Regions from separate parts of the Homo sapiens genome. Here region 2 is linked to region 1. The links come from fine-mapping of genetic effects on gene expression. A gene starts in region 1. The other region holds a variant in brackets. All regions are shown on one strand. Distances are from middle to middle. Region 1 holds the start of WDR36 (WD repeat domain 36). Region 2 has its middle 43 kb from the start of WDR36.

Region 1 (5,381 bases):
TTAAGAATGTTGAATATTGGCCCCCACTCTTCTGGCTTGCAGGGTTTCTGCCGAGAGATCCGCTGTTAGTCTGATGGGCCTCCCTTTGAGGGTAACCCGACCTTTCTCTCTGGCTGCCCTTAACATTTCTTCCTTCATTTCAACTTTGGTGAATCTGACAATTATGTGTCTTGGAGTTTCTCTTCTCGAGGAGTATCTTTGTGGCATTCTCTGTATTTCCTGAATCTGAACGTTGGCCTGCCTTGCTAGATTGGGGAAGTTCTCCTGGATAATATCCTGCACAGTGTTTTCCAACTTGGTTCCATTCTCCCCATCACTTTCAGGTACACCAATCAGACGTAGATTTGGTCTTTTCAGATAGTCCCATATTTCTTGGAGGCTTTGCTCGTTTCTTTTTATTCTTTTTTCTCTAAACTTCCCTTCTCACTTCATTTCATTCATTTCATCTTCCATTGCTGATACCCTTTCTTCCTGTTGATGGCATCGGCTCCTGAGGCTTCTGCATTCTTCACGTAGTTCTCAAGCCTTGGTTTTCAGCTCCATCAGCTCCTTTAAGCACTTCTCTGTATTGGTTATTCTAGTTATACATTCTTCTAAATTTTTTTCAAAGTTTTCAACTTCTTTGCCTTTGGTTTGAATGTCCTCCCGTAGCTCATAGTAATTTGATCGTCTGAAGCCTTCTTCTCTCAGCTCATCAAAGTCATTCTCCGTCCAGCTTTGTTCAGTTGCTGGTGAGAAGCTGCGTTCCTTTGGAGGAAGAGAGGCACTCTGCTTTTTAGAGTTTCCAGTTTTTCTGTTCTGTTTTTTCCCCATCTTTGTGGTTTTATCTACTTTTGGTCTTTGATGATGGTGATGTACAGATGGGTTTTTGGTGTGGATGTCCTTTCTGTTTGTTAGTTTTCCTTCTAACAGACAGGACCCTCAGCTGCAGGTCTGTTGGAGTACCCTGCAGTGTGAGGTGTCAGTGTGCCCTGCTGGGGGTGCCTCCCAGTTAGGCTGCTCAGGGGTCAGGGGTCAGGGACCCACTTGAGGAGGCAGTCTGCCCGTTCTCAGATCTCCAGCTGCGTACTAGGAGAACCACTGCTCTCTTCAAAACTGTCAGACAGGGACATTTAAGTCTGCAGAGGTTACTGCTGTCTTTTTGTTTGTCTGTGCCCTGCTGCCATAGGTGGAGCCTACAGAGGCAGGCAGGCCTCCTTGAGCTGTGGTGGACTCCACCCAGTTCCAGCTTCCAGCTGCTTTGTTTACCTAAGCAAGCCTGGGCAATGGTGGGCGCCCCTCCCCCAGCCTTGCTGCCGCCTTGCAGTTTGATCTCAGACTGCTGTGCTAGCAATCAGCAAGACTCCGTGGGCGTAGGACCCTCCGAGCCAGGTGCGGGATATAATCTCGTGGTGTGCCGTTTTTTAAGCCCGTCGGAAAAGCGCAGTATTGGGGTGGGAGTGACCCAATTTTCCAGATGCCGTCCATCACCCCTTTCTTTGATTAGGAAAGGGAACTCCCTGACCCCTTGTGCTTCCCAAGTGAGGCAATGCCTCGCCCTGCTTCGGCTCGCGCACGGTGCGCGCACCCACTAACCTGCGCCTACTGTCTGGCACTCCCTACTGAGATGAACCCGGTACCTCAGATGGAAATGCAGAAATCACCCGTCTTCTGCGTCGCTCACGCTGGGAGCTGTAGACCGGAGCTGTTCCTATTCGGCCATCTTGGCTCCTCCCCTCTCCCCTCTTTTTTAATTTAAAGAACATTTACAAATAATTAGCAACTTGTTCACTTTTAAGTCATACCAAAAACATGGCTGAAAATGTGCACTGCTATTGAGAAATCCGGGGTACAAATGAAAATACAAGTAAGTACAACATGTCAAGGACTAAATAACAAGCTCTCATTCTGTTAGCATCTGCCCCTTAATGATCTTAACATCCAAAGTGTTTGAGGCTTTGTGCCAAGAACTATAAAATAAATCAAGATTTTTTTTGTTCAAGAATGTATGAGTCAGGTATTCAAATTAGCTAACAAGTGACTTTTGTTTCATAATAATTACATTTTAGAACTGGAAGGAACCCGAGAGAGTACACTGATCTGTGTAGAGACAGACCCTCTTTATCTCTTTCAAGTACATTTACATTAGTAAATATACCCTTTTTATCCCTCTCAAGTACTAGTATAGTTACGTTAGTCACTCGACCCAAACCTTAATAGGCTGCCAAAACGTTTTCATAAACGAAATGAAATGGAAATAAAACAGTAAGAGAAGAGGTTATTCCATATGTTGAACTTTGGTCCTGGGCTCTAAGCTCACCACTGTTTTAGTTAATGTTCACATGCTCAGAGATTGTTCCCCAAACCTACATCTTGGTAAGGCAGCTGGCTCCTGAGGAGTGAGGCGTCTTGACACCCACTTCACTGGAATCAGTCTCCTTCAGCATCCTAAGGCACTCAGCTCTAATGAACTGCCCGGACTCCCGTTTGCATTATGATAAGCTCCTCTTTAGAACCTCTACTGTCTGCTTTTGACAGCCGACCTCAAGGAATACTGACTTAATCCAGGAATCCCAATAACATTTAATATTTATCTTCCTTTTCTGGGAGGAATCTACACTTATCCAAGTTGCCCAAGTGAGCAGTTCCCTCCCCACAAGTAATTAGTTCTACTCCCCAGAGGGTCTGTGAGTGAATCCCTCTGTCAGTTTTGAAATGTCCCATTATAGTTTTCATCTGTAAATATGTCAATATGTATCCAAAAGATGAGGATCTTTAAAAACGTAATCATAATGCTACTATCATATGTAAAAATGAAACATAATTCCTTAATATCATCAGATATCCAGTGTTTAAATTTTTCCAGTCTCATGTTTTTGTACATTTTTAAATAATCACATGTTTAAATCGTTTCCATCTCCAAGGCGTCGACCTCCCCTCCATTCTCCTGGGCGTCGCGCTTCCCTCTTTGTTTCCCGCCCTTGCGGTTCTGTCGGAACCTAACGAGCTTCCTTCCACCGCAAAAGAGCTGGAGAACAATGCTAGGCAACGTGCTGGAGACCTTGGCCCTCGGAACCCAAGTCACGCCTCCCATGTGAGCTCTGGAGGGAGAACTTTATGTGTTGCACTGAGGGCAGTCTCCGGAAACGCGATTCGCAGCGGGCGCCGGAAGCGGTGTTGTGTCTGCAGCTCTGGCAGAGGACTGTTCCACTAGACACGCTGAAGGGACTGGGTACGTGTTTTCCTTCAGGACCAGAGCTGAGAGGAGCTGGGATCGCGGCGGCAATGGAACGGGCCTCAGAAAGGCGCACGGCCAGCGCGCTTTTTGCGGGGTTCCGGGCCTTGGGACTTTTCAGCAACGACATTCCACACGTGGTGCGGTTCAGCGCGCTCAAGCGCCGGTTCTATGTAACAACCTGCGTGGGCAAGAGTTTCCACACCTATGACGTGAGTGACTTCTTTTGTTAGCTTCCCAGGAAAACCACCCTCCTTGGCCTCTAACTCTGTCCTGGAGCAGTCCGGTTCTCCCTTCCCATTTACCACGGGCTTCCCTTCTTTAACCCCTCCCTGTCCTATTAATATTTCGCCATCCGGTCACGTCCACGTGCTGATTTGGCACTTGCAGTCCTCCTGGGGCGTGTTTCAGAGGCAGCCTGGCCAAGGGGAAACTGCTAGAGAACATCTCAGTTGTATGGCAGTAATATTTGTTCAGTGAATATTTATTGACCTTCCCTTGAAGGTGGAAACATAATTAAGACAAACCTCTACCTCTTGCATTCTTAATGAGAGAGAAAAACATGCACGCTATTACGTTATTGGTGACACGAGCTGAGTTAGAAATTCACTCTAGGTAGAATACATTGGGAGAACCGGAGATGGTGAGATTAATTACCGTTAGGGAAAATATCTAATAGCAATCAGTTATTTTCAACTAACGCAAAGTGTCTGGCACTGTCACTCTAAGCCTTGCAGCCGTTTCTTTGCAACATAGGTGTCATTATACCGTAGCACCTTTATATAATCTATTAAAGTAAATTTCAGATAAATCACTTGTTAGTGATGATTTTTTCTCCTATAACAGTTCATCGATCATTGTAATAGTGTCTCTTGTTTACTTGTTTCTTTTGTCTTCTCCGAAAGAATGTAACCTCTGTGAGAACAGAAACCTTGATGAGGAGGATGATAATAGTCAGTGTTAATTAAGTACTTTCTTTTCTGGAAAACAGGTAGAGTTGTCTCTCTTGGAGGATTGTGAATATCAAATGGCTTATTAGCAAAAAGAGCTGGGAGGTAGGAACTAGTTGAGTTAGTGGAAAAGGAAAGTGAGGGCAGAGCTGAGGTGAAGAGCAATTGGGTTTCTCAGAGTCTGAGCTGGTAATGGAGACAGGGTGGGTTAGAACCATATTAATCATGTGAAAGTATTTAGTGTTACCATTCTCTGCACTTGTTCCTTGCTTGCTAACTTTTGCTTTTGCTGGTTAATGTTTTCTTCCTTGAAATGTAATTTTTCTGAGTTTATTACTGAAATAACTCTTGAAATCTTGTCTTTGGTACAGTGTCTTTCCTGACACTGCATTACACACAGACACAGGTGTTTTTCCCTATATTCTACTTCCAAAGAAACCCTGTGGTGAGGAGAGTAACATATTTGTACATTTTATAAAGTTAACAATTTACTTACTGTGTGTTGACATTTAGTCATAATAAAGATGGCTTTTAAGTTCTCCTCTAGTTCTAACACTGATGATACATTCGTAACATCATGGCATGTAAATGTTCTTTACCCAGACTGTACACTGCTCAGATTAACCAATGCATTGGGCTGTGACCTCTAAAACTGAAAATACTTGGGAGTAAAAAGAAAAAAAAAAGGAGCTAATGAACCTAAGTCACTAATTGGGTCTACAAGTGCTCTATCCCATGACTATGGCTATATATGCTGTCCCCAGTCAGACTTCCTACAGTCCTACAGATTAGTTTCTTCTACAGGGGAAACTAGACAAGTTGTGAATAGGTGGTGGTAGTGATGGTAGTAGCTATCATGTATTGAGCAGTTACTATATGACTGGCCCCATTCTGTTTTACACAAATTTACTCATTGAATCCTCATAACAATCCCATAAAGTAAATAAATACCTGTTTTACAGATGAAGAATTTGAGGCACAGGGAGCTTATTTTTCCAGGGTCATACAGCTGGATCAGTAGCCATGATTGGGGTCAGCAAATTACAGTCTGTAAGCCAGTCTAGCCCACTGTTTGTTTTTGTATGACCCAGGAGTTACGAATGATTTTGACATGTTTAAATGTTTGTGGGGGCAGGCTGGGGGTAGGGAGAAGGATATTTCATGACATGAAAACTATGTGAAAATCAAATTTCAGTATCTATAGATAAAAGTTTAAT
Region 2 (5,381 bases), 44 kb after region 1:
GGGAACTTAGAACTGCAGGCCCCACTGCATAACTACTGAAATAAAAACTCTGTGGGTAGGGGCCAGCAATATGTATTTTAACAAATCTCCGTTTTGGTGACTTAATATAACTGAACTTAGAACTGGAGAAGGGAAAAAAGAAGGCTATGAGGCATAAGGTTCTCACCTATGTTCCCACTTGGTTCTAGGAAGAAACCTGAAGGAAGGAAAGTGAGCAAAAGGGTTAAAGATTTTGTAGGCCCTGGCCCCAGATCTAGAAGTAAAAGGGGAAGTGGGGATGGAGGGTTAGTTGGAGAAATCACTGGGTACATTAAGTGGAACTCCAGAGTTGTGGGGCTAGGTCCTGACTCCCCTGGAGGAGACTGGCTCACAAGCCCTCTATCCTGACACATGGTGGCCATAGTCAAGGGGTGTGACTTAACTTAGGTGGCAAGAAATGACTGTGACAGCTCACAGAGTTTCCATGACTGTGGGTGACACTGGGAGGGATCTGGAGGTTTCCACCTGCTCCCTGAGGGGAATGAGGGAGGCAGCTGGGAGTAGAATGCCAACAGGCCTGCCATAGAGCCCCAGTGGCAGAGTGTGGACACACCATCCTGGCCCAGGGCCCAGCTGGAAGATAGGCAGAGACTCAGGGCACAGGCTAAGTGGGACTGTGGTCCTGGTCGGGGGAGGTGAGAAGAGGGTCTGGCAACACAGAAGGCACTCACACATAGTGAACCTTCCTTTGTGAGGAAAGAAACAGACATGGTAGGGAATTTGAACATAAAATCTCACAAAATATTTATCCAAAAGAGACTAGGCTAATGTGAAAGAGACTGAGATACTTTTTAATTGGTAATTTTGTTCCCTACCCTAAATCTAGTAATATGAGGGCTCAAGATGAAATTTAATCATTTTGATATATAAAATATTCTTTAGGGATCTTTCTTTCAGTATCTGTGTACTATATGCTGAATTTCCCAATTCCAACCATGCTAATTTCCATTTCCAGCTGAATCTACTAAATGTCTCTGAAAAGGTACGTAAAATATTCAATACTTAGTTTTATCTCTGTGTTGTTAGTGATTTATTGACACTGCAGACATGTAGATAACAATAGTTTAATGTCCTCTGAAAACACAAAAATTCCATAAATCCTTGCAAACAATTTTTAGCAATATTGTTTATTGCTACCACAGCCAAGAATGGATATTTCAAAGCCGGGGGTTTTGTTCTGTTTTGTTTTGTTTTGTTTGGCTGCCCTTTTTTTCCCCCACTATCTCTGGCTAAATTCCAGTCTTTACTATTAATTTATTTTTTCTCATTTGAACTTTCCAAGTATGATGTCTGCCTCATAACTCTGGCCCTGTTTCCTCACTCCTGGCCACACTCTATTCTCTAGAGTAAATATGATGCAAGCCCATTGGGTGACTGAATGGTGGGTGAGAGTGAGTTATCGAAGCCTGGACTCACTTAACCATGTGGATTTAGTTTACAAGAAGCATCATATACCAAACAAAGGAGTCACATACCCGACAGCCTCCCCACCCAGCTCACAGCGCTGTGATCACTCCTCTTTCCTTCCTTCAATCATTGATTTATTCATTCTATCTTCAACAAATACTTAGCTCTGACCCTGTCTCAGATGCTGTTCTATGCTCTTGAGATACTTTAGAAAACAAAACATATAAAAATCCCGGTCCTATGAAGCTTGTATTTTAGCTCATTATTCTTTTATATTCTTTTGCTTAGCCTTTTGACTTGCTCTCTTTTAGAATCAAGATAAAGAAGAAGATGTTTCTAGGCCTTCACACTCTGCAAAGAGTGACTGCCAGGAGTTTCTCCCTTTATTTCAAAATGTGGCATACGTGGGTGTGTGTGTGTGTGTGCACGCACACGTGTGTGCACGTGTTTGTGTGTGTGTACAGGAATTCCCAAATAGCCTCCATATGAAAAAAAAAATGCCTGCATGCTGCTTCACTACCATTCTTGTTTTAACAAAGGGCTTGGTAACTTAGAAAAGCAGTGCATATGAAGAAGTAAAACAATTAAGGAGGAAAAAAAACTGGTTTTTTTTTTCCCTTGGAAGACTCCACCTCTCCATTCTCTGGCTGATAATAGATGGCCAGGCATAGGGAAGCAGAGACTAGGAATTAGCCTTGTAGTTTGTCAGACGTGGCTCCTGGAGCTGAGGGCCACCCCCCAGGGGCCTGGGTGCAGTTTTAGCTCTTGGCACACTGCGTGGAAAGGTGGAGGCAGGGGGCAGAGATGAGATGTTCATCTCTGTTGCTGTGGTGACAAGGAGGTGAAGTGAAGGTACTTCAAAAATGTAAGCTACAACACGTGAGGAAAAAGGTGCCTGTGGAACTGTGT[G/A]CTTCTCTCAACCTGTCCCATTCCCTCCTAAATAATCGTGTATGGGGTATGGCAAGATGGAGATCCCAACACACATGAGACAGGGTGCCTGACCCCCAGTCCAGGAGATGAGCCTTGCAGGAGGAAAGGCAGCACACATCTGCCTTCTCGGAGCCAGGGCAGGCTGCACAAAGAGGACAACTGCCATTGATCTTGAACAAAGGGGGTGGGAGGGGCATGGTATTACAGAGAGAGACAGGACAGCATTCAGAGATGAGGCCATGAGAAAGGCAATAGAAAGTCAGGGATGGCCAAAGTCATGCCAGCTGCTACCTCTGGGAATGTGTAGAGGTCAGTGGCCCTGGAACTGGGTACAAAGGAGACTTTATCTGCAATGTTTTGTGTAATTTTAAATTAAACAAAATAAGATAAAACATCAACTACTATTGATTCTAGGTGTTGATGTCTATATATTTTCATACTCTATATTTAGTTTAGTTTTTTTTAATTGTATTTCAATCTTTTTTTTTGTCTAGCTTTTCAAATAGAATGTATTTACACATCTCTAACCATTCATCCATCCATCCATTCATGCTACTTCGTAGATATATCTTGTGTGGCTGACCAGATCTTATTTCCTCTGGAAGGTGGCCTTTGGAAGCTGCAATTGTGTTTGCCACCCAAGTCACTGGACCTTTCCCAAAATTCCAGGCCACCACTTGACCTAACCACATTCATTTCGATGCAAGTCCCTGGCATTGGGTCTTTATGAGGCGCAGATGGTCTCCAGGTCAGCACTGAGCCCTGTCTCTTTCTCTCTGTGCCCAGCTGGCATGAATTGGAAGGCAGAGGAACCGAGGGAGTTCTGAGTCACCTAGCTTGACTGAGTCAGAGATTTCTCCAGGGAGTGGTGGAAAGGGTGGCTCTTGGCAGAAGAGATCCTCATCTCAATGGTGTGGTACTTGCCTGAGATTTCCCAGAAAGCACGAAGAACATCAGGGTGGAGAGTTTCACTCTCAGCGACAAATAGAAATAATCCACTTGATTCCACATGAACTAAGTGTTGAAGAAAAACATAATCTCACATTAGCTTATCTCTTTACCCTTTACCAGAACTCAAAGATGGAAATTACCATTCTCATCCTGCTGGGAAATGACAATCATGCAGCAAATACACCATACTTTGTGTCACTTGAAACCAGTTTTATCTATTAAAAAAATACTAATCCTTAAAATATTATTCCTTTATGAAACACAAGGCCTTTTTTTTTCATAGCCTTTGTTGCAGCAAAACTCCTCAATAAATAGCACTGCCCAGAGACAGTTAGGGTAAACTTAGATCATGCAGGAAAGTGTCTGTCACTGTTTGCCTGCATCTCTAATGCCCTTGATGGGTTGGTTTCCTCCTTTTGTGCCAGTGTGGAAGTCTCATTCCCATTGTCTGCCATCAGCTAAATGTCCAAATTTGCTATAGAGCCCATCTCAATTTTGTGCACACAAGTGTTCCATAAATACCTAATTTAGTGGTTTTCTAAGAGTTGTCTGTCCAGTGTTCCCTAGGGGTCCTTCAAATATTTCCAGATGGTCAGCAAAATATGATTAAAAACTATTTTCATAAAACTGTGTTTACTCACAGTATTTCAAGTACAGGAAATATCAACAGATATAATTAATGTCACACTGAGATCCTCAATAATTTTTTAGAAAGTGAAGGGCTCCTTAGACAAAAAATGTTGAGAATCATTGCACCAATTGATTGGTTAGAGAAATACATAGCCTTACCAAGAGGTGCTAGCATATACTAATACCCAATGCTTATCTCTGAAAATGCCTTAAATCTGATGTTCCAAGACATGGAATATGAATCAGTACTGCTCTTCATCCTCTGAGAGAGCCAGTGAGGTCAGGGCTGGTCTCAGGTTTTAAAACTCCATTCAACCTCAGATTTAGTTGGATCAGTCACCTATTGAGTTCAATTAGGACTAGATGGCAAAGTTTAGAATAAAACAATTAGGTCATAAACAAAAATTTTTTAATTAACATAATGAAATGTATTACTCAGAACCAGTTTTAGTTATTTTCAGCAGAAACTACTATTTAAGTACATTAAGGGTTTTTCCAAGTCCCTTGAAGACTTCGTGGCTGAGAACTACGTCTAGAACATCCCAAGGTTCACATGGCTGATACTGGCCCTAGATACTGGAACCTCTGTCCCTGATGCCTCACTGAACAGAGTCCACACAGCATCTGCTTCTCCATGGCACTTACAACTCCTATTGTAATGTTAGTGCATCCATATTGTAATGCATATGTAGTGCATAACATATTGTAATGTTAGTGCATTAGAACAGTCTAGGGCTCAGGCCTATACCCAATGCTGAGAGACGAAGGTTTTGGGTTCTGAGTTCAGGAAGCAGAGACTGTAAATGGGGAATTCCCCAAGCATAGAATAGTGTTCACAAAGTGTTGGGAGTCAAAAGTAGGACAATCCTCCCCTTGGCTGCCCAGCTTCGCAACACACTGGGAAGTTTTCACACTTAAACTTCTAGTAGCAAAAACAGCAGCAGCTATAATAAAATACTGTCCTTCACAGAGGGAAAAACATCTTGCTCTGTGTTTTCCTAAAAGGAGAAACAATTCTCTATTAGTTAAGAATATTTTCTCAGCCAGTGCAATGTGGTGAAACCCCATCTCTACTAAAAATACAAAAAATTAGCTGGGCGTGGTGACGTGCACCCATAGTCCCAGTTACTAGGGAGGCTAAAGCAGAAGAATCGGGAGGCGGAGGTTGCAGTGAACTGAGGTAGAGCCACTGCACTCCAGCCTGGGCAAAAGAGTGAGACTCCATCTCAGAAAAAAAAAAAAAAGAATATTTTCAAGACCAAGTAACAACTTAGTAACCTTGATTTTCACAAGTAGGAATTAATTTTTCTCGTACATCAAGAAATCTAAAAGTAGTTTTTCACAATGTTGCAATTACTCAATGGTCCTGAGAAAGACACAGGCTTTTTTTCCCCTACTTCCTCTGTTTCATTTTTACAACAAGA

Evidence for each region. PIP is the estimated chance that this variant, and not a neighbour inherited with it, causes the effect. A credible set is the group of variants that fine-mapping cannot tell apart.
Region 2: its variant is the best candidate, but not a certain one, in a credible set for the expression of WDR36 in whole blood (INTERVAL, PIP 0.85).

Annotation. Positions count from the first base shown.
Region 1 is chr5:111,089,193-111,094,573 of GRCh38, forward strand. WDR36 (WD repeat domain 36) reads left to right here and starts at 3,156. Exons shown (of 23, transcript NM_139281.3): 1 at 3,156-3,426. The coding sequence starts at 3,265. RefSeq lists an enhancer at 3,006-3,445.
Region 2 is chr5:111,132,941-111,138,321 of GRCh38, forward strand. No RefSeq gene overlaps it. Among named protein-coding and RNA genes, the nearest start is that of WDR36, 43 kb to the left of the region's middle. The variant G/A (reference allele first, on the strand shown) is at 2,356.